Linked DNA regions of Homo sapiens: regions 2 and 3 are each linked to region 1. The links come from fine-mapping of genetic effects on gene expression. A gene starts in region 1. Each other region holds a variant in brackets. All regions are shown on one strand. Distances are between the middles of the regions. Region 1 holds the start of LRRFIP1 (LRR binding FLII interacting protein 1). Region 2 overlaps LRRFIP1 (LRR binding FLII interacting protein 1). Region 3 overlaps LRRFIP1 (LRR binding FLII interacting protein 1).

The links. PIP is the estimated chance that this variant, and not a neighbour inherited with it, causes the effect. A credible set is the group of variants that fine-mapping cannot tell apart.
Region 2: its variant is the best candidate, but not a certain one, in a credible set for the expression of LRRFIP1 in blood mononuclear cells (TOPMed, PIP 0.69).
Region 3: its variant is the best candidate, but not a certain one, in a credible set for the expression of LRRFIP1 in pituitary (GTEx, PIP 0.86).

What each region holds. Positions count from the first base shown.
Region 1 is chr2:237,621,703-237,631,507 of GRCh38, reverse strand. It overlaps LRRFIP1 (LRR binding FLII interacting protein 1), which reads right to left and starts at 3,921. Exons shown (of 24, transcript NM_001137550.2): 1 at 3,768-3,921. The coding sequence starts at 3,863. RefSeq lists enhancers at 1-12, 15-514.
Region 2 is chr2:237,694,828-237,704,632 of GRCh38, reverse strand. All of the region lies in intron 1 of LRRFIP1 (LRR binding FLII interacting protein 1), which reads right to left. Among named protein-coding and RNA genes, the nearest start is that of LRRFIP1, 72 kb to the right of the region's middle. RefSeq lists enhancers at 61-940, 941-1,821, 4,124-4,173, 4,184-4,233, 7,340-7,549 and a silencer at 6,227-6,276. The variant T/C (reference allele first, on the strand shown) is at 4,605.
Region 3 is chr2:237,656,462-237,666,266 of GRCh38, reverse strand. All of the region lies in intron 1 of LRRFIP1 (LRR binding FLII interacting protein 1), which reads right to left. Among named protein-coding and RNA genes, the nearest start is that of LRRFIP1, 34 kb to the right of the region's middle. RefSeq lists enhancers at 1,488-2,056, 3,043-3,584. The variant A/G (reference allele first, on the strand shown) is at 3,879.

The DNA.
Region 1 (9,805 bases):
GCAACAAGAGAGTGAGAAATAATTGACTTGCGATAATACAGCATTTGCAAATAACTCCCTTTACTATACACGCTTGCCTAGAGTTTAAACCATCACATGGAAGCAGGACACCGGCTGCAGAAGCAGAAATGCACCCTCCAAAGGCTGCCCCCACCACGAGTCCTGCTTCTACCCAGAAGAGTGCAAAGCCCTGCCTGCACAGGGCAGCCTAGCTCTTCCCCTCGCTCCAGCGAACTGGAACCCACGTCCCTGCCAGGTGACTCAGGCTTCCCAATGACCTCAGCCCAGAATTTTCCACTTACTCTCCAGAAGGCATGTTCTTGGGTGCCAGGCCCAAGTGGCAGCCCACTCCCTCCCACTTCCTTGAAGCCTCCCCAGTTTCCATTCAGGCCCCCACCTTCCCAAGTGTTTCAGGGAGGCCGGCTCTCCCCAGTCCCAGGATGAGTCTGACAGGTCACAGGGTAGACCCACCCCCCTTTGCCACAGGCACTGAGCCCCTAAGTCCATGGTCCTTGTCAAAGAGCTTGGTGCAGGAGTGGCCAGACAGACTCATGAAAGTTTACCAGGGAGATACTGCTAGCTCTCTGGAGAGAGCCACCAGAAGAGACGGTGTGTGGGCTCCACAGTGGCAGCCCGGGAAAGCCAAGGCCAGCTGGCCTCCATGAAGCAAGTCAGCCTGAGGATGAGGCCACCCACAGAGGATGGCCCAGCCCAACCAGCTGCGCAGGTGCTGTGGGAAAAAGAGGCCGGAGCCACTGGTGAGGCTGGCGGGGAATCCTGCCCTGCCTCCGGGCTTGCTGTGCTCCAGCCAATATACTTCCCCTTGTCAATGTCAGTCCAGTCAGGGTTTCTGTCCCAGCAGCCAAAGCATCTTGACTGGTACATACAGCCTTCAAGAACTCAAAATGCCACTTCCTCCAGGAAGCCACTTCTGAGACCACTGGCCGGCTGTGATTCTCTCTCATGTCCAAACCTTCAGAACACTGTCTACGCCCTTTTTATATCAGATCCCTTCCTGTCTTCGGTTAGCATTATTGATCTACAGGTGTCAACCCCTTTCTGACCCAACTCCTGGAGGGCAGGCAGGTCCTCGCCGGGTTCCTCCCTGACTCTCCAGTCTCCCCAGGACAGGAATTTGGATACCATGGCTTGTATCTGTTGAGTCAATGAGTGAATAAGAAAGTACTGAACCCAAGACGATTTTGTTGATTTCTATAAGAACCCTGATGAATTCAAGGAGTAGATATTTGCCATTTGAATAGTGATTTTCATTTTCACAGTTGAGAAATAGAAGTTAATTTGTACTAAAACATAAGATGTCACACCTGCTCCCTCCAACCCTATCAATCTGTGCTACTCAGCACTAGTAACAGCTGCACCTACGGCTGGGTTTTACCGGGAGGGGCGTGTAAGAAGCTCTCATATTTACCCACCGCCTAGTTACATACTTTACATTGCTACCCACTTTCTTTAATTCTGACAGCCAGGGGAGGTTTCTTCTTCTCCATTTTAGAGACGAGAAAACAGAGGCCCAGAGAAGAGTGAGTAACTCACCTTCCTAGGATGGCACAGCTGGCTAAGAACTATGTCATTTGAAAGCCCAGCTCTGACTCACAAGTCTATCTCTGTAACTCCAACTGCATCTCCCTCGGTGGGAGGGAGGACCTCAGGGCTCTCAACCCAAGGAGTGTTCCCTTGCCTTCCTTTTCAATCTATTTTATAAAAACCAGCAGATAGGCTGGGCGCAGTGGCTTACGCCTGTAATCCCAGCACTTTGAGAGGCCAAGGCGGGAAGATCACTTGAGGCCAGGAGTTTGAGACCAGCCTGGCCAACACGGTGAAACCCCGTCTCTATTAAAAATACAAAAATTAGCCGGGTGTGGTGGTGCGTGCCTGTAATCCCAGCTACTGGTGAGGCTGAGGCAGGAGGATCTCTTGAGCCTGGGAGGTGGAGGTTGCAGTGAGCCGAGATCATACCACTGTACTCCAGCCTGGGCAACAGAGTGAGACTGTGTTAAAAAAAAAAAAAAAAAAAAAAAAGAAGAAAGAAACACCAGTGGATAAAAGGCAAACTCTGGAAATTTTCATTCTTCTCATTCTTCTGCCCCATAACCACTGACATCAAGACAAGGCTTGCGATTCACTGGCCACCTCTGGCCCTTGCAGGGAACACTTGTAAGGCACTGTGGTCAAATGCATACATAAGTGACTGTCTTCACAGGAGGGAGTTATACTCAAGCTACTATATTTAGCAAATGTCTATATTTAGCCAAAGGTCCTTTAAATGCCTTGTACTTCTTTTGTTTATTAATTAATGTAACAGACATAGACAAACACCTAGTATGTGCCTGGCTCTGTGCTGAGCTCTTGGGATACAAAAGTAAGATATTTCCTGTCTGGGTGTCACCTTCTACAGGTGGACAAATAATGATAAGGTATCCTGACTGCCATGCCAGGCGCGGGCATGCCATGGAGGGCCGTGGAGCCAGGGAGACTTAGGCCTGGTGCGATGTGAGAGGGCTGAGTCTGGAAGGTCTCCTGGAGGTCACAGTGGGCTTCCAGGAATGAATAAGGGTTTGCCTGGAAAGCCCTTTTCTGTATCATACAGAGAAAAACAGAAGTCTTTATTCACTCAGTAGTCAACAAATACTGAGTGACTGCCACATGTCCGTAAGAGCAAAATCAGGTATTTACAACTACAAACACCTAAGGATTGGTTACAGAGTAGATCCCCCAGAATATCTGACGGATACAGCCAGACACCACAGTCCAAATGGCTTGGAGGTGTTTCCTGTGGGAAGAATCACATGTGGAAAAGCCAACACGGAAAAGAACCTGTAAGGCGGGTTACAAGGCAGAGACTTTCTTTGCATTCATACACCCACCTGGCACACAGTTCAAATGGTACAAAGGGAACACAGTCAAAAATTAAGCTTCCTTTGTCCCCCTGGGGCCGCAACCTATTGGCTCCCCTTTTCCCAAGCTGCTGCTCTCTGTCCCTGTACGGCTTTCTGGATGTCATGTACATTCTTTAGCCTTAAGGTAGAATCCTTGCGGAAGGAAAAAAAAAAAGGCATTTGTACAAATACCCATTCTAGTGCGCCTTCAATTTGTCACAGGTAAAGTTCATCACCAAACATGATCTTAGTTACAATAAACTCTGTCCAGGAAACTTTAATGAAGACGTTTCAGTGTGCCTGGACCCGTTTCCAGGCTCAGTCCTGAAAGAAAAATCACAGTGATCCCCAAGTTCATCTCTGAGCTGCACCTTGAGTGACATCGATGGATGGATGACAAATGGTCACCTGAGCGACTCGGCCATTTCAGCAGGGCCATGTGGCCTCCGGCGACCGTCCACTGCCTCCAGGTCGGGCCTAAGCCCCCGCCTCCTCCCATGCCGCACAACAAAGCGGGGCGCTCGCCCCCACCCGGCCAGCCCGGGCCACCTCGCGCGCTGGCGGCGCCCGGCTCCTCTCCCGAGGGCGCAGCGGCCGACGGTGGCCGGGGTGGGGGAGGGCGCGCAGCGTCGCGGGCTGGGCCCGGGGCTGGAGAACGGGTGCGGGGTCCGCAGGCCTCGGAGATCGGGGCCGGGGCGCAGCGCCTGGGGATCAGCGCCCCGGCGCGCGCCTGCCCGGCCCACCCGCCTGGAGCCGGACGCGCAGTGGCACAGACGCACAGCGGGACAGACGGACGCCGGAGAGACCCTGACAGCCGTCCGGCCCCCGCGCCCGCCCGGCGCCCCCCGGCTGCCCTCCCGGAGCGCTCACCTCCCGCGCGATCTGGTTGAGCGCGTCGTCCTCCGCCGTGAGCCGCTCCCGGTTGGGGAGCCGCTTGCGCCCCGATCCCTGGGTGCCCATGTCCATCGACCGCGTCGCCCGCAGCTGCCGCGGGGCCCGTTGCTCCAGCCGCTCGCGCCGCCCCGGCCCGGCCCCGGCCCCGGCCCCTCCCTCCGCCGCGGCGTCATGGCGTCAGCGGGCGCTGGGCCGGGGACGCGGGGACGCGGGGGGACGGGGGCCGCGGGGACCCGGGGGAAGCCAGAGCCGGAGGTCCGCAGCGCGGGCCAGGGACTGCAGGGGCCAGGGACGGCGGGGCGGGGGACGGGGGCGGGGGGCGGAGACGCCAGGTGTCAGGGACGATGGGGGTCCGATACCACGGGGACGCTGCGGATGCCCAGGGCCGGGCACGCGGGACCTGAGGGACCGGGAGCCCCGGAGGGTGGACTTTGCGGGGACTGTTTGGCGGGCCGGTAATCGCGGAGCGACGCGCGCCAGGGCGGTGGGCACCGGTTGAGTGGGGACCTGAGCGGAGAGCGGGGGGGTAGGAAGGCTTTCAGAGGCCTGAGTTGCCTTGAGGGGTTTGCACGGAGGGGTGAGCACAGGATTTGGTTCAGCCTGGCGCTCCCCATTCCGCGGTGAGTCGGGGTGGAAGTCCCTCGCCGGGGTGAGAGCTAGGCTCTGGGGTCAGGCCGAGAGGTGCTCGGATCCGCCCGCCACCGCCGCTCCTGTGACCTTGGCCAGCCTCCTGGGCGCCGGCTTCACAGCGGCATGGTGTGGATGTGTGCGTTTCTGTCTTTACACGCGTGTTCTCCGTGCTAGCATCCATCCTTCTCCCCGCTGTCTGCCCCCTGAGATCAAGGACTTGTCACTTCTCTGGTGGGTCCCCAGCCTCTAGGATCGGGGCAGGTGCGTCGCAGCTCTCTCCTAGTTGTTGAAAAAGTAATGAACTTACCTGTGCTCTCTGAAGCTCACAGTCTATGCTCCAGAGGTGGATTTAAAAGTAAAGCAAATCGGAGGATTAGGTAGGGGTTAAAAGCCCCTGCCTAGGGCACGGCAGGAGCACCGGGTGGGAAAGTTACTGGTGTGTTTGGGGTATGGGGAGAACTTCAGTGTGGCTGGACCTGGGGAAGGATGGGAGGGAGGGTAGTGATGGTAGAGGAGAGGAGGCTGTACTGAAGTCACCTGTGATTTTTTTCCCCCAGTGATAAGGACAGTTAACATTTCGGTGTATTTCCCACCAAGTGGTGTGACCAGATTGCTTTGGATTCTTAAGGAGGTGGCCTGGAAGCTGTATGAAGGTGGGAAGAGGAAGAGGGCCCTTCCACCCACAGTGGCAGGGAAAGCTGTTGGAGGTTTCATTGCAGGGAAAAGACAGCGAGTCCAGTGACATGGGAGGGAGGGCAGATCCAGGTGACATTGCTCTGGGTGCCTGAGCTGACGCAGGTGGGTTGGCAGGGCTGACTGTGGCATTGTTCATGACTGAACTCCGGGAGCAGAAACTGCACCTGCACATTGTAGGCACTAAGGAAATAGGTGTTGACTGAATCTTCCAGGCCATATTTACATTACTTCAGAGGCCATACTCCTTAAGTGACATAGTCCTCCTTGGGGGAAACCTTGAGCCGTGGCCACTTGCACTGCCTTGGTCTTGCTGGTGGCTGCTCACTGTTTCCCAGCCCCTGGGGCACTGTGGGGACTGTGCGTCTTTGCCGAGGCTGGTCCCCATGAGTTCACTCATTCCTGCACCCACACCTGCTGCCTGCCAGCTGCTGAGCTGGAGGCTGGGGCATAGCTGTCCGAGAGGCAGACACGGCTGCTGCCTCTCAGGGCTGACTTGAGATGCCTGGAGCTCCTTAACTAAAGCCATATCCAAGTTCCAACGTCTCCTTTCTAAAAGAAGTCTCCCTTTGCTCCCTGTCCTTCATTGGAACTTTGAGCCACTTTTTGCTAACACCTAAATCCTCCATCCTGATGTGTTGAGGCCAGGAGGGCAGGCGCTGACCCCATCTTCCTCATCTTTAAGCCTTCACCAGGGACTGGCTGTGCCAGTTGCTTAGTGGAGTGCAGTGGTTGAACTTGTGGAACAGAGTTCAGTTCCCAACCCTCCTCCCCACTTTCCCTGTTGGATTGTTGTCCAGAGACAGGAGATTCACTGCCGTGGGGACTGGCCAGAGGTGTGTCTGAACAGCTCCCGCTGGTAGACAGTGTTCTCGGACACTGTGGTGAATTCAGCTTCCTGCCCCTCCCCCATCATCTGTCCACTTCCAGAAAAGAGCCGCCTTTCAGAAATCATCAGAAACAACATTGCTGGGTCCTCCCATGACCCCATGACATAACAACTTCCTGGCTACAGTCCTCTTCCCCTGGCGATGTGCTCTCAGAGTGGACCGGTTCTCACTTCAGAGTCAGTTTCCGCCTCTAAATGGAAATACGGGTGCCCACTGTCTTAGTTCCTTTGTGCTGCTGTAACAGAACGCCTTAGACAGGGTCATTTATAAAACCACGGAAATGTATTGTTCACAGCTGTGGAGGCTGGGAAGTCCAGCATCAAGCCTCCAGCAGAATCAGTGTCTGGTTGAGGCCCATTCCTCACAGATGGTGCCTTCTGTGTGTCATCTCATGGTGGAAGACGGGCTCCCTCCAGGCTTTTGTGTAAGGGCACTCATCGCGTTCATGAGGTCTCTGCTTCAGGACCTGGTCACCTGCAGGCCCCACCTTGCATTGAGGGTTAGGTTTTGACATATGAATGGGGGGGCCACCGCCATCCAGACCATGGCCTCTACCTTGTCAGGGTAGGGACAGTATTCTAGGCAAGAGCCCTTCCAGGGCTTCACACACAGGCAATCGATCAATCATCCTTACAGCTCCTGTCCTCAAAGGCCCAGGTCTGGAATGAATGGTGAACAGCAGTTCCTGTCTGGGCAGAGGGGAGCTAGACAGAGGTATCAGGCAGCTTGGTGGGTCTTCTCCGTGCTTGGGGTGCCTCCTGGAGGAAGATAAAGACCTGCAAGACTCCATCATGCTGATCCATGGGTTCACCGAAAAATTGTGGCTTTTCCTCCACCCTTGACCGTCGGCCCTCCCTGCGTGGAAGTGCATGAGCCTGTTTCCACTGAGAAGACTGGCCTCTGCCACCAGCACTACTGACCCCTCCCATCTAGCCCTTTTCCTATTCCAGATGGTGACACTACCCACCAGGGCTTACTTCAGAGCAGGAAATTGAGAAACTATATCACAGATCTGATGTCCAGGGCCAGAGAATTAACATGTTCATCTCCAAGCCTGGTACCAAGTCCCTTCACAAAAATACAGATGCCACCTTCAGGAAGCCTCCACGAGAAAGTGGAGGCAGCCAGGGAAGCCTTGGCAAGGGAAACCACACAGCGGCGCCGTCCCCAGCGCAAGTTTGCCTTGGTTCAGGAGCTCAGTGGGCAAGCCCTGGGGGCTGGCTGGGAAAGGAAGTTGATGAGCAGCTACGGAGGGGCGTCCAGTCTGCATGAGGACTCAGAGCTTCTCAGGCAGAGAGCCATCTGAGCCATCATGTGGGCCATAACGTGACTCACTCTGGGTCCATTGAGAGCATCATCCGCGTGGGCCTACCTCAAACCTCTTTCACCAGCACTCCAGCCTTGCTCTTCCAGTTCCCAGAGGATGGAAAGCCCTGCTTTGGATTACAGCTGGAGCAGGGCAGGAGAACTGCAGCCCCCCCCCAGGAATGCTGAAGGACCCGTAGAGGAGAGCCATCTCTCACGCATGGAACTTGGAGCCAGCACTCTGCCCAGAAGTGGGGCTGGCTGAGGTCAGGGTCTATGTGTTGCTCAGGAGGTGAATGGTGTCTCCTTTGTCCTGCTGGACGTTTTCAGGTGCATCTTTCAGTAGCTCAATCACAGCACTTCCAAAATAAATCAGTGGATGATGCCTGCCCCAATAAATGCCTCTTCCTTCCCAGGACACCATCACTTCCAGTAACTTTTTCATGTTTTTTGGAGTAAAAACCTTGGAACCATTTTGAAATCCTTTCTCCTTTCTCTACTAAATCTGATCAAATACCCAGCTGGTCTTTTCCTTCATCTCTATCTGATCATTTTGATCCTCCTTTGGCATGTTTGCTGATACCACCAAGCTCTGCAGCTGGTCCCCCTTATCCCTCATCTGTGGATTACTAGCATAAGTCACCTTCTGGACTTGGTGTCTCCAGGGTAGGGTGTCTGAGACAATCTATGGGGTAGGGGAAGCAAATATAGAATTTCTGTTATATATATCTTCAACTAAAAATTAGAAATCCAATGTTACTAATTTTTGGTCTATAAGCTTATTTCAAGCGGTCACTCACTCAAAGCATTTCAGGGGCTGGCAGTGGCGTGCTCTCTCATTACATCATTTTCTGCATATTTTGATATATTTCGGTGGACCAGGTTAAAAGGATTTATGGATTGCCTAACCTAGTTTTAACTAAAACTCAAAGAGTAGATAAATGGCTTCAAAAGATTTAAAAGATTCCCAAAAGCCACAAATAAACAAGAAAATGAGAGACTTGTTTCTTAGTTCAGGCAGGAGGTCTTCACTGGCCTCAGTATAAGGTTATTAGACAGGATAAGAACGTTTAGTAACCATCAAAACTATTTAAACATTAATTTACATTTCCTATCATTAATGATTAACTTCATTCTAAGTGGATATTGTGCCTTTATTTATTAACTAATGATGATAAACTAGGAACATAATTTGTACATAAATATGCAAATACTTGTGGGAGTTTAAAAATACTTGCGGATCATTTCCATTATCAAAAACATCTGGGTTCTAAGGGCAGGTGCCATGGCTTATGCCTGTAATCCCAGCTACTCGGGAGGCTGAGGCAGGAAAATTGCTTGAACCCAGGAGGAAGAGCTTGCAGTGAGCTGATACTGCGCCACTGCACTCAGCCTGGGAGACAGAGCGAGACTCCCTCTCAAAAAAAAAAAAAAAAAAAAAAAGGGTTCTAGACCAGGAATTCATTTTTTTTTTTTTTTTTTTTTTTGCAGTAAAGAAAGTTTAATTGATGCAAGGATCTGATGAAAGTTGGATTCCTCTTGCAGTGGGGAAAACGGGCATCTGAACATGAAATTTGAGTCCAATTTTAGAGGGTGATATTTTGAAGTCCATCCATGGGCTATCTGAATTCCCATTCTACACTGTCCCAATTTAATCCACTATCTACAAAAGCCAGAATAATCTTCTGCAATATGCTTCCATCATGCTGTGCATCAGAACTGCAGAATGGCTCTAGGGCGGCTGCTGCAGCAGTTCTGGAGGGTAAAAGCAGGTGCGAAATGCATCAGTTCACTTGTGATGAGTGATAGTCACAGTGCTGAAGTTTGTGAGATTATTTGCTTTAAATGTTATTGTCATAAAATTTCACCTTCACTAAGTGCTACTGGGTGCCAGGAATTTCGCAGCAGGAAAGTGCCTGGTAGGAAGATGTCAGGCTTGGGATGATCACATGCCATGTGTGCCTCTGGGAAGCTCGCTGAGGGTGGTGGGTCCTTGGCACACAGTGCCAGTTCTGTAGCCAAACCCCTAGAGCACCTTCAAGTAGCTCTCTTAGGGTAGCTTCCTGAGAGCTGGGACCAAGATTGCCTTTTTGTCCCTCAGAGAGCCTTATTCTGGATGCTTAGAAAATGTGGCTTGACTGAATGAAGAGTCCTTTCTTAAGGTACTATATCAAACAGGATGTGAAAACCAATTTTCTTTTTACTTGGGGAAGAGTAATGATGCAAATGTAGGTACTTATTGACTAGCAATGTAATCAATTTTCACCTAACGTGGGATTTATTAACTATTAATTCAATTGGTTAAGAAAAAAAGTGACAGGACTTTCAGCTACAGGACTTTCAGCAATGGGGATAAACATTATAGGAAACTAACCCTCCTTCTAACAATCATGAACCTCAAACAAAGTCTGGAAAACAGCCCTCTGGAGGCCGTGGAGAGTAAACAAATGCACACTGGGACTGGAGTGGACACAACCTTTGAAGGAAGAGAAGTAA
Region 2 (9,805 bases), 73 kb before region 1:
CTTAGCTTACAGGCAATTCTTGGAATCTGCCTAACTCAACACCAACAAATATATGAGCCAGCATTTAAACTGGCACAAAACCTATGCATGACCATCTTCACGAACACAAAACTACACACTTAGCCACAGAATAACTCTTGCCACTTGCTTAAGATGCCTGAGAGAAAATCCGTAGAGTTGGCCAGGCGCGGTGGTTCACACCTGTAATCCCAGCACTTTGGGGGACTGAGGTGGGCGGATCACCTGAGGTCGGGAGATTGAGACCAGCCTGGCCAACATGGTGAAACCCTGTCTCTACTAAAAATACAAAAAATTAGCTGGGCGTGGTGGTGGGCACCTGTAATCCCAGCTACTCGGGAGGCTGAGGCAGAAGAATTACGTGAACCTGGGAGGTGGAGGTTGCGGTGAGCCAAGATTGCACCACTGCACTCCAGCCTGGGCAACAGAGCGAGACTCTGCCTTGAAAAAAAAAAAAAAAAAAGAACATCTGCAGAGTTTCGACAAAATTCTTCCCCAGAGACACTGCGAAGAATGGCACAGCAGCCTGACAGGGCACGGCAGATGGCAGACATTGGGGAGAGCGCTGACTGTGCAGGCAGGGGTTCTCGGGGATCAGGGCACCTCAGGCCAGTGCTCCGGTGGCGCAGGACAAATCCTTTATCGACTGACACTTTTGTAAAATATAAAATCTCATGACGGGCCACAGCCACGTCAGACTGCTTGAAGAGCTTCTGAACACGGCCTGTCACTTTCTGTGAGTAGCCTGTGGGCTGACCGTGGCCCGGGGAGGCCACAGGAATGCACTGTGCTGTGAACGTGCCATGCTGTCTCAGCACTGCTTGAGACAGTGGGAGGGATTTCTGAAATGTGGTTTGGGTGCCCAGTCTCCAGGGAAACAGGCAAAGCACCTGGTGACAATGTACATGTGATGAGGACCACATGGGGGAAGAAACGTGTGGCAGGGGCGGGGGCTGCTCTGGAGAACTTGACCCAACCCCGGGGGGCTGGGGAAGGCATCCGCAGGACAGGAGCCCTAAGCCGGACCCTGAAACAGGACAAGCAGAGCCGGGGTGGCTGCGACCAGGAGCTGGTGACAAGGAGTGCAGACGCCTGGGGTGCAGACCCTCGCCCTCAGCCTCCGTATCTGGAACCTCGTCTTGAAAGAATTCAGAACCACTGAAGGGTTTTAAGAACACAGCGGAATCTGACTTTTGTTTTAGAAACAGGGCTCTGATAGAAATGTGGGGAGCAGGTATGGGGTGGGAAGAGCAACAGGAAACCAAGGAAGTGAGTTGACAGGCTGCTTCCAGCATGGGGACAGGAACGGGCTGGGCTGCAGCGGATCAAGCTCAGTGCCAGGGTTCGGGCCTGTGGAGTTTAGGATACAAAGCAAAAACTGCAAAGGGCTTCAGAGAACTCAGGAGACGAGACTGTGCATACCCCAGACGGCCTGCAGGTTGAGTCATTCTTTCCCTCCCATCCGAGCTTGCTGGATCCTCCACTGATTAGATTAGAACAGCGGCTTCTTGGCATGGCCCTCGCTAGGGTTCATGGGGGCTGGTCTGTCCCCACCCTACAGGAGCCAACAGGGAAAGAGCAAGCCCTTGCCTGCTCCTGGGGTCCTACACCCTGAAGCCTCCTTTCTCTGCCCATACAATCTTTGCTGAGATACTAAAACATTTAGGAGTACAGTGAAATTATCTCCCTCTGACTTGTCTTCAAATAACCTGGGTGGGGTGTAAACGGCTATAAGCTAACAATTGTTGAGGCTGGGTAGTGGGGGCACAGGGCTCTTTAAACTGTTGGCTGAGTCCCATCCCAGATCTGGGTTCCCACAAGCCCCTCCCCCTGCCACCTCCTTGCCCAGTATGTGGAGTCGTTCAAGATAAGGGCCCCTGCCGTGCAGCAGGACATGCATAGCTCGGTCTGGCTGCTGTTTCATAACAAAGAGCAAAAATTTAAAAAGAAAGAAAAGAAGGAAGGAAATGGAAGAGCCCCAAAACCAAAACTCATGCTTTCTGCTGCTGGAAGGTGGCCCGCTGCTGGGTTTTGCAGCGCTGCCCCCACCGTGTCCTCTCTCAGTTCCTGCTGCTGCCCGCGGGGTTAGGATGGAGCAGAGGGAGGAGCTCCTCTGACAAGATCCAGGCTCCCTGGCTTCTCAGGAATGCCCACAATGGTTGGTCCAGAACCATTCCTGTTCAGAACACACAGCCTGGCCCTTTCCCTGGGATCCCACCCATCCTGGCCAGGGACCCCACAGACAGAGTTTTACAGGAACTAGGTCTTACAGCAAGATACTCTTTGAGGGTGGGGATGGCTGGGAAAAAAAGATTCCATTTACTATCAAAGTTGCCTCCTTGTCCTAATCCTAGAAAGCCGAACCACGACTCGAGTTCTATTGTTGCGTCTTATTTTACCATATGTGAATATGACAGCCCTCTGATAGGGAGGTGGTGTGTACGGTGATAAGAGATCTAAAAATACACGAGGAAGCACAAGTATGACCCCCAGGGCCTCCGAAACAAATGGCTAAAAAGACAGCCAGGCTCTCCCAGCCACATTAATGCCAGCCCCACAGCCTGCTGTGGAGCCCAAGTCTATGGGGGCACCTCCCTGGGAGCCCCATCTGCCAGGCACCCAGCCCACAGGCCAGCTGGGGAGATAGGCACCAAAGTGACCCTTCTCCCCCTGCAGGGTCTTTTCTGGGCTGCATGGACCCATGCGTGACATCTCGGGAGCCAGGCTGGAGAGGCCTGCAGAAGACTGCGTGAAGAAGTCACCATCCCCATCCCGAGCCACAGATAAAAGCACATGTTAGGAGGTGCTTTGCAAAGGGACCCCACGGCATGCAGAGGGCCCTGAGGGGCTCTAGTTCTAGACAGAACCACACAGCAGAAACGGCTTCTACCGGGGCAGGGCACACAGGGCAGTGAGGTAAACAGTCTAACCCATGCCTGTTCTTCCAGGGCTCCCCATGGGCCTCCCGCTCAGAGCCCCAGAGATTCCCAGCTATAAGAAGACAGTCACCCAAAGATAATGGCCGTCCCTTCTTCCGGGTCAGGGAACTCAGGGACAGCCCGGCTCAGGCTGGGGGCTCAGGCCAAGGAGAACCAGAGAGAGAAGAAGTTATTGACCAGGACACAAGGAGAAACCCCAGCGGAGCGCAGAGTGGAGAGCCCTCCCGCACGCCCTCCTGGCCTAGCCCACATGTGCTTCCATCCTCGCATGGCCTCAGCCTGCGCTGGAGGTGTTGTAGGCAGTGGGAGTACTGCCTAAGGGTGGGGACAGCCCAACACCCTGAACCCCAATTCCAGTGACGTCTGGGGCTCTAGCAGCTCTAATGGCATTTGTATCCTTCTTGTGGCTCCTACCAGAAGATCATCATGTGGTCTCCTCAAAGAACAGAAACACAACCAACACTGGTGGGGCAGGGGCCCTGACTGCTGGCAAAGGGACAGCAGGTGCTGCGGGAGGCTCGCTGGGCAGCTTGCTTCAAAAGCCCCACACTCCTTCAGGGGATCCTGGCACTGCTCATACATTTCCTGAGCATTGAAGCTTTTCTGGGATTCCAGCCTAGTGTAGAATTACAGATCCCAGGGCCTCTCACCCTACAGTCACAGGAAATGTTCTTACTCTGCTTTTAAACTCTGTGGTGATACCCTAGGGGTCCAGAATTCTACACAGAAGCTGGAAGGGGTTTATGAGCCACAACTTTAGGGCAGGCAGTTCCTGAGAAATACTCTGACGTCACTCCTTCCACCCAGGCTGAGAAGGCCCTGCAGCCTGGAAAGCACCGCATGTGAACCAGAGGCGGCTCCCACCTCCCCCCGCAGAGCCCAGGGGAGACCCAGGGCATACAGCTCATGTGCAGATTCGTGGCTGCCATGCCCGCCGTTTGCCAGGAGCCTGTTAGCGCATATTAGGGACACCCAGTGGGCCAATGGACAGAGGACTGGACCATGAACAGCAGCTCTCCTCAGATGTCAGATGGAAATGACGCCCCACGGGGCTGTTCAGGGAGAGAAGCCGTTTGCCAGCTGTAAAGCACTCTGCAAACAGGAGGAAGTTCTCCTATTAATTACACACATTCATTTTCGCCTCCAGGTTTTAGCGTCAAGCAGAGAAGTGAAAAAGCAGCAGCATTATTTTTCTAGGCCCCATGATACATCACCAGTCTAGTTTATAACCTTTTTGGAAAAGTGTTAAGGATGTAATTCAAGTTCACTCACGTGAATGTGACAGGAATATGATGCAGCCGAAGCCTGAAGTGGCCACAAAGGCCAGTTTGTTCACAGACAAGCAGGGGCCTCGGTCCTTGTGCGATTCTTCCCCTGAGCTAAGAAGGAATCAAGCTCCTGGAGGGGCCGTGGTGTACCCAGGCTGTGACACGGGATCCCTTTCCTGAGCCACTTTGCTATAGGAAGTAGCCACAGCCACCAACTTTTGTTTTCTCTGCAAACCCCCCAACCCTCAGATGCAGTGGCCTCTAAAGTTTGCTATTCACAGCAACCAAGTGGGCCGGGTGATGTTCTCCTGCACAGACGTGGACAAGAACGGACGGCACAAGGCTAGCACCTCCGCAACGCAAGGGAGGCTCACCTCGG[T/C]TCCGTGTACCCACCACCCCATGTCCCCCAGAGGCGATGTGCACTGTATCTCAGTTCCAAAAGAAATGCTCATGTGGGCAATCTCACGAAGTCCCCCAGGAACCACAAAGAGCCTTCCCTACGGCCATGACTGTGAGAACGATCGTTACCAGGCACAGGGCACTCTGGGGTGGCAGCTGGCAGTGGCGGAAGTGTTGACTTAGAGGGCATTTTGGAAATGTTGGGGGGACTGGGATGTCAAAAAGATTGGGAAGAAGCTAAGGGTATTGGGGCGGGGGGGCAGGGCCAGGTCGGCCAACCATCCCGCATTCAGACACGCCTGCGATGGGAAGAACTTTTCCCTTGACTGCTCAGGAAGATAGAAAAACCACTGTTTTGGCCGGGTGCGGTGGCTCACGCCTGTAATCCCAGCACTTTGGGAGGCCGAGGCAGGCGGATCATCTGAGGTCAGGAGTTCAAGACCAGTCTGACCAACATAGTGAAATCCCATCTCTACTAAAAATACAAAATTAGCCGGGCATGGTGGCGCATGCCTATAATCCCAGCTACTCAGGAGGCTGAGGCAGGAGAATCACTTGAACCCGGGAGGCGGAGGTTGTAGTGAGCCGAGATCTCACCATTGCACTCCAGCCTGGGCGACAGAGCGAAATTCCATCTCAAAAAAAAAGAAAAAAAAAAAAAAGAAAAGAAAAACCACTATTTTTAATTTTTGGATTTACAAACTGATTGCAACTTACATATAAACTCAAAATATGTTTTACACAGTTCAAATATACATGAACTATTCCAGGAATGCAATCGACATGGAAATTGAAGGAAGATGATGATACTTGGCTTTGTTCAGAACTTTCCTGAGAGTTAGTCAACTTTGTAGAATGTCACGTCATAGACAGCAACATGAGGGGTGGTGTGTGGGTCTCAGTGCAACACACCTGTGTCAGCCTCCCTGTGACGCCAGGCACAGGTGTGTGCAGGTCTCATCACTGCATTCAACTGCTGGTGTACTTGGTCTTGAGTATTTCTATATCAAAATTCTTATTATGTTACTATAAACTACCTGTATTTTATTTTTTAAGGAAATGTTATATTGACTCGAAATTATGTGCGCTGGTTGACTTTCTCACCTATGCATTTCATTTCAGGCTAGTAAGGAAGTTAAGGAACTTGTAAAAAGACAGGGTTGAGAACCACAGCTTCAGAACTCCAGTGTGGATCTCTCGTCTCTCCATCACACTGTATGAACCAGCCCCGGCACAATTCAGAGCACAGGTCTGGGTGCCTGGTGCTCAGGCCATCATGAAGATTTGGATGGCATAAAGTTAGAGATCAAAGCCTAACTGATTACTTAAAACACTATGTTTCCATCAAAATTAACTCAGACAAATTATGGAGTAGACTGAAATTACCATGAAAGTTTACGGTAAGACGGCCACCTTCAAAGAAGGCTTTAGCTTACAAGGCTGCTCCTGGCCGGGCCCACAGGCCCCAGGAGCCAGCACACTGTCCTCTGCACTCGGGGGACCTGGCAGACAAGTCCAAGAAATGCTGGGTGCCGACTGCTTCTCTCAGCTATGGCTGCACTGTTCTCAGTAAAGGTCTGAGTTTATGCAGGTGCAGACTGTCAAGAAAGGAGTCTGAAGACCCAGCCACAGCCTCCAGCTTGGGCTCTGTCACCTACAGTTATGTGAGCCTGGATAAGTTACTCGGTTTTTGAACCCCAGCCCTCATTAAAGAAGTAGGAGGGGACGTAATCTTTAAGAGCTTCCTTCCCCTCTGAAATTCTTTGGGTTCATGCCAGAGGTGAATTATTTGTACACTGAGATTGTCCACAGACTGTGTCTGTTTTGCTACTGGAAATCTCCAGGCTTTGCTTTTCAGAATAATAAGCTTCTTTAAAGTCCTTCGCATCCTAAAATAGCAAACGTATTAATCGGGAACAAAATGATTGATGTTACTTTATTGATGACTCACACATTGACCTATTCAAACCTCACAACACAATCTTGGGCTTAGCAGCTACTCCCACTGGCGCTAAGAAATAAATACGCTATACAGTATCTTCCATGCAAGTGAACTTCTACTCTTGCTGTTAATACATTTCTTGCTTTTCCTGAGATGAATGAATCTTCATATTTCCTTCAATTGCCTCAACATGATGGAAATACAAGAACCATGACTACCACTAACAGAGACGTGCGGGACTGAGAGGCGAGGGCGGCTGGGCCTCCCCTGTGCCGTTTCCTCTCCAGGTGACAGGTTTCCCTCCAGGCAGCACGTCTGGGCTCCACTCCCTTCACCTTTGCCTGCTCTGCTCAAGACTGTCCTACAAACCCCAGACCTCTAGGGTTTCACAAAAACATTTAAATTGTTTCCTCTGAGAAGAAGGCTGAAAGCTCCACCAGCACCAGGGCAGCACACAGCAACTGACAATCTTTCCTATATTCAGTGGATATTCCCTGGAACCAGCTATAAAAGAAACAGCAGCTGTCATGTTTATCCTCCATGAACTTATCTACTTGGATGAGGTAGGGGAGGAGTTACATCATACCCAGAAAAATAAAAAGGCTTAAATCACAGCAGCTCTCAGGTGTATGCCGACATAAGCAGTAGTTAACATTTTAGCATGGTACAAAAATAGCAAAACAAGTTTCACAGCTATTTCATTTCTACCATTATTTTCCTTATGTAGAAAAGTAAAGCTCATTGGGCCGGGTGTGGTGGCTCATGCCTGTAATCCCAGCACTTTGGGAGGCCGAGATGGGAGGATCACTTGAGGTCAGGAGTTTGAGACCACCCCGGCCAATGTGGTGAAACCCCATCTCTACTAAAAATACAAAAATTAGCCGGGTGAGGTGGCAGGCACCTGTAGTCCCAGCTGCTTCAGAGGTCTGAGGCAGGAGAATCGGTTGCACCTGGGAAACGGAGGTTGCAGTGAGCTGAGATTGTGCCATTGCATTCCAGCCTGGGCAATCAAGCACGACTGTCTCAATAAAAAAAAAGAAGGAAAGTAAGTTCGTTCTTTGAATGTTCTCTTCTGTCTGGAAATTACCAGGCAGAGAACAGAAAAGTTTGACAGAGTGAAGACTTCCCAGTATGCATTCAAGACAAGGACTTCTGTCCTAAGAGGCAGCTTTGGTAAAAAGAAATCCTTCAGCCCCAATACTGGGGTATGAGACAGCAGGGCTGCCAAGAAAAGCTGACAACAGCGACAAAAGCAGCAGCAGCAGCCGTGGCAGCCACAGCTATATCTTGCACATTTACTACCTGCCAGCCCCTGCCTGCAGCATTGCATACAGTGGTGACAGTTATCAGTACCAGTTCCGAGTCAGCAGGCCTGGGTCTGAACTGGCTCCACTGCTGACTAGCTGTGAGGGCTTGGAAAGTCCCTGACCTTTCTGAGCCTCAGTTTCCTCTTTATCTGAAAAACTGAGAGAAAACGATCTGCTCCCCATGAGGTTACAGCAAGGGTTAGAGAAGACCTTCACATAAAACACCAGGTGGGCGCAGCAGGGGTTTGGTAAATATTAGCTACTTTCACTACTTAGTGTCTTCTTTGACAGCTACTGACCTAAGAGTATAAATCCGGTTCAGAGAAGTTTAGAAGCACGATGAGAAGACAAGCATGCTAAGGCACCCACCTAGCAGAGAAGCAGGAAAAACTGGGGAAACTTCAGAGGAGGGGGACAGAGGTTCTCAACCCACAGGGAAAGCCCACTCCTTTCCCTAGGAAAATCACACAGCCACGTGCCACATACAGTAAAAAAGACAGAAGGATCACAGGTGGCGTTGCTTTGATCATCTTCATTACACAAATAAATGAAACATTTTGGTTAAAATTAAGAGTAAATCTTCATTATAGTGATTTAAGATAAATTACTTCTCTACTACAAAGTAGTTATACTTTAGATTCAAGGGAAAACTACTTACCTAGTTTTAAAGTTGTAAAGTTACAATCCCAAGGAGAAACCACTGGAAACACTGGCCCTTTCCAAAATGAATGAATGAGTCTCGGAATACATATAATTTCTGTTGCCAGGTGTGTGTGTGTTTTGGTTTATTGTTTTGGAATCTGGCCTGGGGCAGGGGGATTATACTACTGGTCTATAATCAAATACATGGCAATTTTGAATGATTAAATCTTGCATGTAGTCAAAATATTTAATTTGGGAGAAAGAAACGAATTTACTTAATTTTATCTAGGTAGTCTGAATAATAAAAGTTCTAGTAAGTCCATTCCATGAAAACAAGCTTCTTTATTTAAAAAAAAAAAACAAAAAACAAATTTGGGCGGCCTCCAGTAATAACAGTGAGGTAATAAAAATCCTCTTCTCCTGTCCCATGTCTAACACGTAGTGAGATGTAATGGACTTACTGATTGGTGAAGAGGTTGGTAATCTAAACATTATGGCCTCTGGGGCTTCAAGATCACTCCTTTAAATACGAGCAGATATTCTGGAAGCACTGGCATATGAGTAACCAGTCATAAACAATTCCTTTGCTGAGTCACACAGCCTGATTTTTCGGGGATAAGAAGTTCCTCTTGGACATTGCCTTTTGAGGACCAAACATGCTGCACCAACATTTAGTCTCACAATTCTGTAGGGATTGGATAAGAATCTCACTATAATCAGGTAACTCTCCAATCAACTTCGCTGAAACACCGTTCTGCAACTATAAATAACTTGATTTCCTGTGCTCAGCATAAGTGGCAGTTGAGACTGCAGGGTTTTTTGAAATTTGCTAAGGAGGCTTCCGCTGTGGGATATTAACTCAGGCTGAACAGAAACTGACTCTTAAAGAAAAAGGGAAATTTAGTCTCCATCTTTGCCCCAGTAGGACACTCTCAATACTACTAGAAAAGACCTACCTTACTATATTTATGTCTTACCTGCCCGGGGAAATGACATGCCTAAAACACACACCATATGATTCCACGCTCCACCATCTCAGACTGAGCTAGAGCAGGGCCAGCCCGCCTCGTGCCAACTGATTCATCCCCATATTGGTCAAGACTCCACTCTCCCACACCTGGGGACCCTGGCCCAGGTACCTATAATGAGATGGGACTTGGGAGACTGTGTGTCCACGCTCTCCCCTAACAGCCCTTTCTTGGGACAGTGCTGGTCATTTAGAAGGGCTGAATGCTAATCAGTATGTGGAAAGAGAGCGGGGTGACACAAGCCATCGCAAACACAGGGAAG
Region 3 (9,805 bases), 35 kb before region 1:
CAATGCGCCCATTTACAGACAACTGAGGTGCTCGATTTGGGGGATGGAGCCCGACTCAAGAGCTTTCCATGTGCCAGGCACTGTGCCGAGTGCTGTGTGCCAGTTCTCTTATTAATTCTTAAAACAAGCCCACGTATTAGACCCATTTTTCCAAGGAAGGCACAGAAAGGCCAAATAACCTGCTTGAGGTCATGTGGACAATCGGTGGTGCAGCCAGGGTGGGGCCGTCCATGCCAGAGTCCATGCTTGTGAACAGGACCGAGGGGGACGCCCCTGGGGAAGGCCGTGAGCTCCTGGGTGCTTTGAGCCAAAGGCACACAGGTTAAGGGATCACTGAAGCCAGACTGCAGTTGCCATGGAAACAGCATTTACTATTCAAAGACCTTCAGAGGTGTTCTTGCAAATCAAGACAGCAAGAAAGAATCCTTCCACAAACGACCCCAGTGTTGACTGCAGCTTGAGGGTCTTCAGAACAGTAAGGGATGCCCATGTTTGCTGCAGGGAGGTGGCACTGTCTACCCAGACTGCAGAAGTTTCAAATTCAAAAACAGCCAACTCAGCCATGCTGAAAAAAATGTTAACACACTCTCCCTACATAAACACAATATCGCTTTCACATAGTGTCCGGTTTTCATATTAATAACATTTTATAAAGAACATAAATTCATTTTATTTTTGTAGTTGTTTTTGGCAGTTTCATAGCATGAAATAAGTTACTCAGAATAAAACCCCAATTTTAAATATTTTGCTGATAATAAAAAGGCATCAAATTAAGATGTGTTGGCTTGTTGGTATCTCTGGAAACCATCTCATTCTTACGTGAAGAGTGGATTCCAACCCTGACTTTCTAATTAAAACCTTTGAGAAAAATTGAGATACCTGTTTCACAGATTATAGATTACTTCAATTATACATGTTTTGTTCAAAATCACAGGCTCAGAAATTAACATTATTTCAATAAGTAATACAAAAACATCTTGAGAATTCACATCAGTAAATAAGAAAATCAGCATTTTTTCTTTTTTTAAGCTAAATTACTATTGTATTTTACTTTAACCTTAGAATTTTTTCTTTAACCTTAGAATTTTAGTTTCATTGATTTTAAAAAACATAAGTTAATGAAGTAAATGGTTTATTTCACAATAAGAAATTATTTAATAGTAAGAAGCTTATTTAAATGCTTTCATGAATAAGTAAAATTATAAGTATTCTTAAAGTGATGTGAAGAACTTACAAATTCTTCAGAGTCAGCACAGTGCAATGGTCTGATGACAAGCCTGAAGTCATTTGTTAGCTTCCAAAGAAAACCCTACATTGAGTTTTATGAATGGAAATTCTTGGCTGTCACTACATTCTGCAATGTAATGGAACACGAGATTAAGAAGGATGGAAATCTGGGTGCTCCAGGAGTCTTAACAAGTGGTCAGCATCCTTTGAACCCAGCAATTTCCCTTCTAGCAACAATCAAAGATGAGTAGGAAGATGATTGCCAGTGGATGTTCATCGCAACGTTCTTTATACCAGAGAAGGATGGGGCTTAAGTACATCAGCTGTGGGAAGAGAACACTATGCAGCCGTTGGGTAGAAAAAGTACATATAGAATGATTATAAAAGGCGATTTGCTCAAAATTTAAAAACTCACAGAGAAGTTCAAAGGTGGCAGCAAAAACACCCTTCCAGAGGCCAGACCCTTGCACTTCAAAAAAAGTCCATTCAGTCTTGGAGCAGCACTCCTTGCCAGGAAGTTCTCTTCACGCCTCCCTGGAGCTGTTACCCGCATACACAACAACGTGACTTTTCTGTTCCCGAGGCGGCATGCCAGCAGCTGAACACACTGCCACACCGCCGAGGCCCCGTCATTTGCTGATGGACCTCAGTCCAGTCAGAGGTACAATCCAGAACTGAATACCAGCAACCAGCACACTGTGGACAGGCCAGGCGGCAGGCGCACCTGCGGATGGAAACGCAGTGGAGAACGCCGCCGGCCTCTTTGCCAAGAACTCAATCTCCCTGGCTTGGGCCCCCTCCTCTCCACTGCCAGTCCCACTGCGGCCCCAGCCAGGACTAAGCCTCTGTGGTCCTTCTCCCCATGACTTCACTAAAACGGCTCTGGCTGAGGCCGCCAGGACCCTCCCTTTTGCAAGGTGCAAGTGACATTCTTCCCCGGGTCTCCCTTGGGTCTCTCTGCAGCATGGACATGGCTGTTTCCCCTCTGCCCCCACCCTTCACCCTGCTCCTCCCTCCCAGTGCCCTGAGGGCGACCCTTCCTCTGCTCACCCCTTCCTTGTTTCTGAGGTTCCCGGGGCTCCACCCTGGGTACTCTGCTCCACTGACCTACTTAGGAGACCTCATGCAACTATGTGGCTTTGACCACCCTGACCGCTGACGGCTCCCCTCTCCCCTATGGCCCAGGCGAATGCACGTGAACCTTTGCCAGACCTTTCCCTGTGGGTAGTGCTCAGCTGCCTCAAGGCAACATTCCCAGAACAGAACTGAACTCTTCCCCGGGTCCCCGCTCCACCAACCCAGTCAGTTCCACAGTGTCTGTGAGTGATAACGCAACATCACACCATCCTCCCCAAGCACCCTGTCAGAGGCCCGGAAGTCATTCCATGTGCCTCGTCCATTAAGGCTGAGCTGTTTAGGCTGCTGTAGCAGAAGGGCATAGACTAGGTGGCTTATAAACAACAGAAATTAACTTCCCCCAGTTCCAGAGGCTGTGAAGCCCAAGATCAAGGTGCCAGCAGATTCAGTGTCTGGGGAGGGCCCCCTTTCTTGTTCATAGAAGGGGTGAGGGCCCCCTTCCCATTGTGTCCTCACATGGCGGGATGGGGGGGGAAAGAACTCCCCGGGTTTGTTTTATAAGGGCACTAATCTCATTTACTCTCATGCCCTAATCACCTCCTAAAAGCTCCCACCTCCTAATACAGTCAGCTTGGTGGTTAGGATTTCTATACATGAATTTAGGGGAGACACAAACGTTCAGACTACAGCACCTTCTTTCACTCCGCATCTCACAGAATGCTCACAATCTTACTCATTTCTTTTAAACTAAAAATTCTAATAGTTTAGTTAAACTGATGCAGGGCAGGCGAGCCCTAAAGTGGAGCTTAGCCCATCTGGGTTCTTGGCCTTGCTCAGGAAAGAATTCAAGGGCAAGTCATAGGTAGAAGAAAACAGCTTTACTGAAGTGTCAGTGTTCCAGCTCCCTGCCGGCTCCCGCAGGGCAGGGCTACCCCGCAGGCAGAGAGCAGCACCTCAGGGCAGTTTTGCAGTCCTGTTTATACTCACTTGTAATTGCATGCAGATTAAGGAGCGGTTTATGCAAGGAAGAGGTAGTAATCACTGGGTCATTGCCGTGGAAAGGAGCGGTAATGCCTGGGTGCCGTCATGGCAACGGTAAATTGACATAGCGCTGGTGGGCGTGTCTGATTGAAGACTGCTTTCCCCACCGGGCCTGTTTTAGCTAGTCCTCAATCTGGCCCAGTGTCCAAGCCCCGCCTCTGGAGTCAAGTCCCGCCTCCTACCTCAGAAGCAGTTCCAGTTTTTAATGTTAACCAACACAGGGAAAGTGAGGTTTCACTATAAATAGCCACACCGAGAATGGGAACATAAAACTGTCCCAGTTATAGGGATTATTAATGGATTTCGCTGCGGAACAAACAAGGATTTCAGGTCAGTTTATGACATATTGTTATATATCTTCAAATCCTAAGAGAAAGAAAAAAAATACATTCAGACATTGGACCTGAAAAAAAAATTGTCCTTATCTTTTCTAAGGGGTTAAGAGCACATGGCACACACCACACCTTAGCACCCTGAAGAATAAAATCATATACGTGATGGTGAGAATGTAAGAACCCTGCACTGCGTTCAGT[A/G]ACATCCCCCAAAAGTTCATGTCCACCCAGAACCCGTGGATGGGGCCTTATTTGGACATAGGCTTTTTGCGTGTACAATCAAGTTAAGATGAGGTCGTACTAGATTAGGGTGGGCCCTCATTCAATGACTTTCTTATAAGGAAACAGAAATTTGCACACAGAGACACAAATACCCAGGGAGGGGGCCACGTGGAGACGGAGGCAGAGCCTGGTGTGATGTGTCTACAAGCCAGAGGGCCGAGGGCTGCCAGCAGCACCAGAAGCTGGAGAGACGCCTGGAACACCTTCCCCTCAGAGCCTCCAGAAGGAACCCACCTGGCCCAATACCTCGACTTTGGACTTCCGGTCTCCGGAACTGTGAGAGAATACAGTTCTGTTATTTTAAGTCACCCAGTTTGTGGCACTTTGTTATGGCATCCCTACAGACCAACACCTGCATGCTGTCATGGGTCACGCTAGGTGCACGAGGACTCAGTCTTCAGCCAGATTTTACATTTTGTCCAAAGGAATCATGGCAACACCTATTTTGGGGGCTGATAGGTACCTGGGTCAGGAGAGCCTATGCCACTCAGCTGGGCCACAGAACTACAGCGGATTGACTCAGGAAACAGGAAAACAGTGCCCTCTCTCTTCCTGGAGCTGTCCCCATGCACAGCACAGAGAATGTGTGCCCACTCCCGTGTTGCACCAGGGACACAACTGTCCCCCTGGAATGTGCTTTCGGAACGTGCATGGCTCTGGGACAGATGTTAGGTATCACTGAAAAATTCCATCGACAGTGAGGACAAGGATGGTTTCATGGATGAGGACAGAGATGCACATAGGGCAGTTTGCCCTGGGCAGGAACAGAAGGTGAACCAGGGGCCGAGAGCGAGGTGGAAGGAAAGGGATTTGCTCACATCTGGAAGGAAGGAGGGAGTCTGGGGAGGGCAGCCCGGCCAGCTGGAGGGCTTTGGGGAACAAAAAGTTTCCACTGTCTGGGAGCATCAGAGGGCTTGTGCTCTAAGGAGGAGAGGGACTGGCAGGCATGGTGGCATCTGGGTGGACTGGACACACAGTCCAGCCTCCATTATGTGGCCCACCCCACTGTGTCCTCCAGAATTAGCAGCAGCCAGGGGAAGCCAAGCCTCCAAGGCAGAGGGAGAATCATCAGAGGGCCCAGGAAACAGCTCAATCACTTCAGGGGCTTCTGCCCAGGATCCCCCAGGGTCTCCCTGCGTGGCCCCAGATATCCTTCCCTGTTTGTTCACAGTGCTGATGAGGCACCCACTGTAGCAAGGCCTCTCCCCGCAGCCCAACCCAGGAAGCGGTGGGAGAGCAGAGATGGCATGTTAGTTTCTCGGGGCACAGGGACTGCGTGCCTCTGGAGCCAGGCTGAGCAATAATCTCGCCTCTTTCACAAGAGGAGATCCGAGAGCTTCCTCCTCCCTCTCCCAGGATGACAGTGGGTCCTGCAGGTGGTCAGGTGTCCCGACGCTGTATATTGAAGGTGATGGAATATATAAACTCAAAAACGCATGCTTTTCTCCCTTTTTCTGCCACAGACATGTAGCACCGTGCGCTGTTCTGCCCTTGCTTTTTTCACTGAACTTGTGTGTTGAAGCTTTTCTTGCTAAACAATCTAGCTCAGAGCTCCTTCCACAGGTGCACAGGAGCTCGTGGCACTCCTTGTATGGATGGCAACAGGTTTGACCAGTCCTTTATGGCAGACAAATTTGTTTGTTTCCACATTTTTCTGCTACAAGCAAGACTGCAGCAAATGACTTGGAATTTCATATCATGGGAGTAGAGGTGCAAGATAAATTCCCAGAGGTAGAACTTCCGGGTTAAACAGCATGTGCCTTTTGAAGTGGACAGATGCTGGCCAGCTGTACTCTGCAGAGATAGCTGCTGTGGACTCTCTCATCAGCACTGTGGGGGTCCCTATGTCCCCAAACCTACACTGGCCAGCTGTACTCTGTGGAGATAGCTGCTGTGGACTCTCTCATCAGCACAGGGGTCCCTATGTCCCCATATCTACACTACGCAGTGAGTTGCCAAGCCATCTCCTAATCCCTGCTAGTGTGCTGGGGCGTGGGGTGGGCAGATGGTAACCTAGAGTAGTTTTAATGAATACTTCTAATATGTGTGAAGTTTGGACTTCTTTCTGTTTTAGAGCCATGTGTAGTTCCTTTTGTTTTTAACAAACTATTTTATTTCTTTTGCCTTCTCGCGTATCATTGGCCTTCTTAATAACTTTTTAGAGTTCCTCTTGTGAAAATTAGTTTTAGTGACACAAGTTGCAAATATTATATTTTTTCCCTGTTTGCTGCCTTTTGACCTTAACATTGGCTTTTGCCTTTATAAATATTTTAATGTCTATGTAAGACAAAGCTAAACATCTTTTCTGGGGTAACTTATGGGATTTGTAACTTACACGAAATATTTTCCAATATTATCTTAAACTTCTCGGCCACTTGCGGTGGCTCACGCCTGTAATACCAACACTTTGGGAGGCTGAGGGGAGAGGATTGCTTGAGGCCAGGAGTTTGACACCAGGCTGGGTAAGATAGTGAGACCCCATCTCTACAAAAAAGGAAAATTAGCTGGGCGTGGTGGCACATGCCTGCAGTCCCAGCTACTTGGGAAGCTGAGGTGGCTGGACCCCTTGAGCCCAGGAGCGAGGCAGCGATGAGCAATGATCGCACCGCTGTACTCTAGCCTAGGCAACAGAGCAAGACTCTGTCTCTAAAATATATATATTTATATGTATATAAAAATATATAATATACATTATATAAATATATTATAAACATATATAATATAAATATATATAAAATTATATATAGTTTTTTTGGTAAAAATTGATTTCTTCTTGTTGTTTTGTGGTTCCATTTGCCAGCTTTTGACTTTCTTGTAATTTATTTTGGTATGAGGTATGAAGCATTAACTTAGTGTATTCCACATGGTTTGCTCTCTGTCCCCAAACTGTTCTTTAATAACATATCCTTTTCTGCCTGGCACAGTGGCTCTTGCCTGTAATCCCAGCACTTTGGGAGGTCGGGGCAGGAGGATTGCTTGAGGCCAGGAGTTTGAGACAAGCCTGGGCAACATAGGGAGACATCATCTCTACTAAAAATAAAAAAAAATTTGCCGAGTGTAGTGGTGTGTTCCTGTAGCACCAGCTACTTGGGAGGCTGTGGCAGGAGGATTGCTTGAGCCCAGGAATCTGAGGCTGCAGTAAGCTGTGATGGCACCACTGCACTTTAGCCTGGGTGAGGGAACGAGACCCTGTCTCATTAAAAAAAGATATAATAATAATAATAATAACTTATCTTTTCCCACTGGTTTGAAATGCCCCTTTTACTGTATAGAAAAGTTCATCATTTATTTGGATCTACTTCTGCATTTTCCGTTTTGTACCATTGACCTGCCTGTTCATGAGATGTGCTAGTACCATATAGTTTTATTAATTACAGACTTATAATATTTTCATACCTTCAGGCTAACCACACTGATATGGTTAGGCTTTGTGTCCCCACCCAAATCTCATCTTGGATTGTAATCTCCATAATCCCCATAATCTCCGCATGTCAAAGGAGAGACCAGGTGGTGGTAATTGAAACAGGAGGGCAGTTCCCCGCATGCTGTTCTGGTGATAGTGAGTGAGTTCTCATAAGATCTGATGGTTTTATAAGGGGTTCTTCCTCCTTCACTCGGCACTCCTCCTTCCTGCCGCCTTGTGAAGAAGGTGCCTTGGTTCCCCTTCATCTTCTGCCATGATTTTAAGTTTCCTGAGGCCTCTCCAGCTATGCTGAACTGTGAGTCAATTAAACCTCTTTCCTTTATAAATTACCCAGTCTTGGGCAGTTCTTTACAGTAGTATGAAAACAGATTAATGCACAGCCCCCTACTAATCTTTTTGAAAAAATTTCTTGGTTATTATTGCTTGTTAATTTTTCCATACAAGTTTTAGAACCAGGCTATCTGGTACCAAAAGAAATTCTATTAATATTTTTATTGGGACCTGCATTATGTAGATAAACTTGGTGAGGTTTGATATTTTTATAGTGTTAAGTCATCTTATCCAAGAACATGGTATGCCATTTCTGCTGTTGAAAGTTTTGGTTTCTCAGTAGTGTTTTAAAGATTTCTTTATATAAATTGCACTCATGCCAACCTTATTCCTTGGTATTTTATATATTTTATAGCTATTGATATGAAGCCTTTTCTTCCATTCTGTCTTCTAACTGGTTATTGCATGAATATATGGAGGCTATTGATTTCTGGGCAGTAGCTTATACCCAGCTGCCTTCCTAAATCCTTGTACTGTTTGTCACAGTTTTTTAGGTGGTTCTCCTTGGTTTTAGGATTTCCATGCTTGTCTTAGTCCCACAGTTAAATAACGCTCATTGCCAGTTCTCTTGTGTACTTCTTTCACTTATCTCTTGGTTGCACTCGTTCTGAACCTTGGGGTTTAAAAAAGTATTGATAATTCAGTGCTATCACCGAGCTTCTAATTTAATTCATATGGGCTGTGGCTTGAGCCTACAGGTTCATAAAGGATCTCAGTGATTCCATGGAACAATGTCAGGTGGAAGACATTGTCTTCAATAGTTTATTCAAGAAGGAATTATGGGGACGATATTCCTGAATCCTTGCATTTTTTAAAAATGGAATTTCATTTTTTTACATATCCTTCTAGGGAATTATATGCCTATATAAACAAATATATTTTTCTCCTCTTTTATTTTTGAATGACAGTTTGAAGCGTGAACAATTCTGTCACGCTTTCTTTCCTTAAGGCTTTGTAGACATTGCCATAACTTTCTTCTAATAGTGAATGTTGCCACGGAGAAATTGAGGCCAGGTTGGATATTTTCCCATTTGATCTTGATTTGTTGTTGTTGTTGTTGTTTTTTGCCTGTCTTCTCAAGAACCTCTTTATCATGGCCATCTGAAAACACGATTAGACTGTTTCAGTAGTGACTGTACTATCTCTATGTTTTCTGGGGCATGGTGGAGATTCGACTCTTCTTTATGGAATGCCTTATTAATTCATATGTGAAAATATTCATTGTTCCATTTATTTAGGTTTTCCTCTTAGAATACTCCAATTTTACATATGTTGCCTTTGCCTGTCTACTCACTGTTAAATTATTTTCCTCTCTTTATTTCTGTTTCATTTTGCTCCTGTTTCCCATTTCTGTCTTCGCTCCCCTGCCTGGCTGGTACGTGCATCCTCACACTTGACCTGTTTCTGTGATTCTTCATCCAACCTCAGCTCCACTGTAACTGAAACCAAAATGGTGCAAGGATGCCCCCTACCACCGCCAGCCTTTTCCCACCACTGCAAACAAGGGTTTGGGGGCTCTTCTTCAGAAAATGCCCCTTCATGGGTAAGTTTACTTTGATGAAGATGAAAATCTTAGAATAGTGGTTTTCTATCATGAATTATGTTATCTTCGTAACATTGTAAAATTCCACAGAATGTCACATTATATTAGTGAACTTCCATTGACATATAAATTCAGTAATGTTTTTAGGAGCAGTTGCATTTTATTAATCACAAATAGTACTTACAAATGTTTAAAAAGTAAAAATACATACTGACACAAGGCACATTTAATTTTTGTCTAGTTCTCTGAAGTAAAATGCATGCTCTTCTGATTATATTTTTTGCCTCTTTAAATTTACTTTTGTTTATATTGTACAATGAATTAACTTCTATTGTGGTAGTTAATGTGTAATTTATGAATAATCATACGTGAGTCACATGGATATTCCATAAAATATTTGGTGCTCTGTCCTAGACAATGCTCAGTGTGCACGCAGGAATACCAGGCACCATGTTCTTGAGAGAGCTCAGGGCCACAGCCAAGAACCACTGCTTGGAAATTGAGACAAAATCCTACCTATACAGTTGCTCAGTAAATACTAGTTAACTT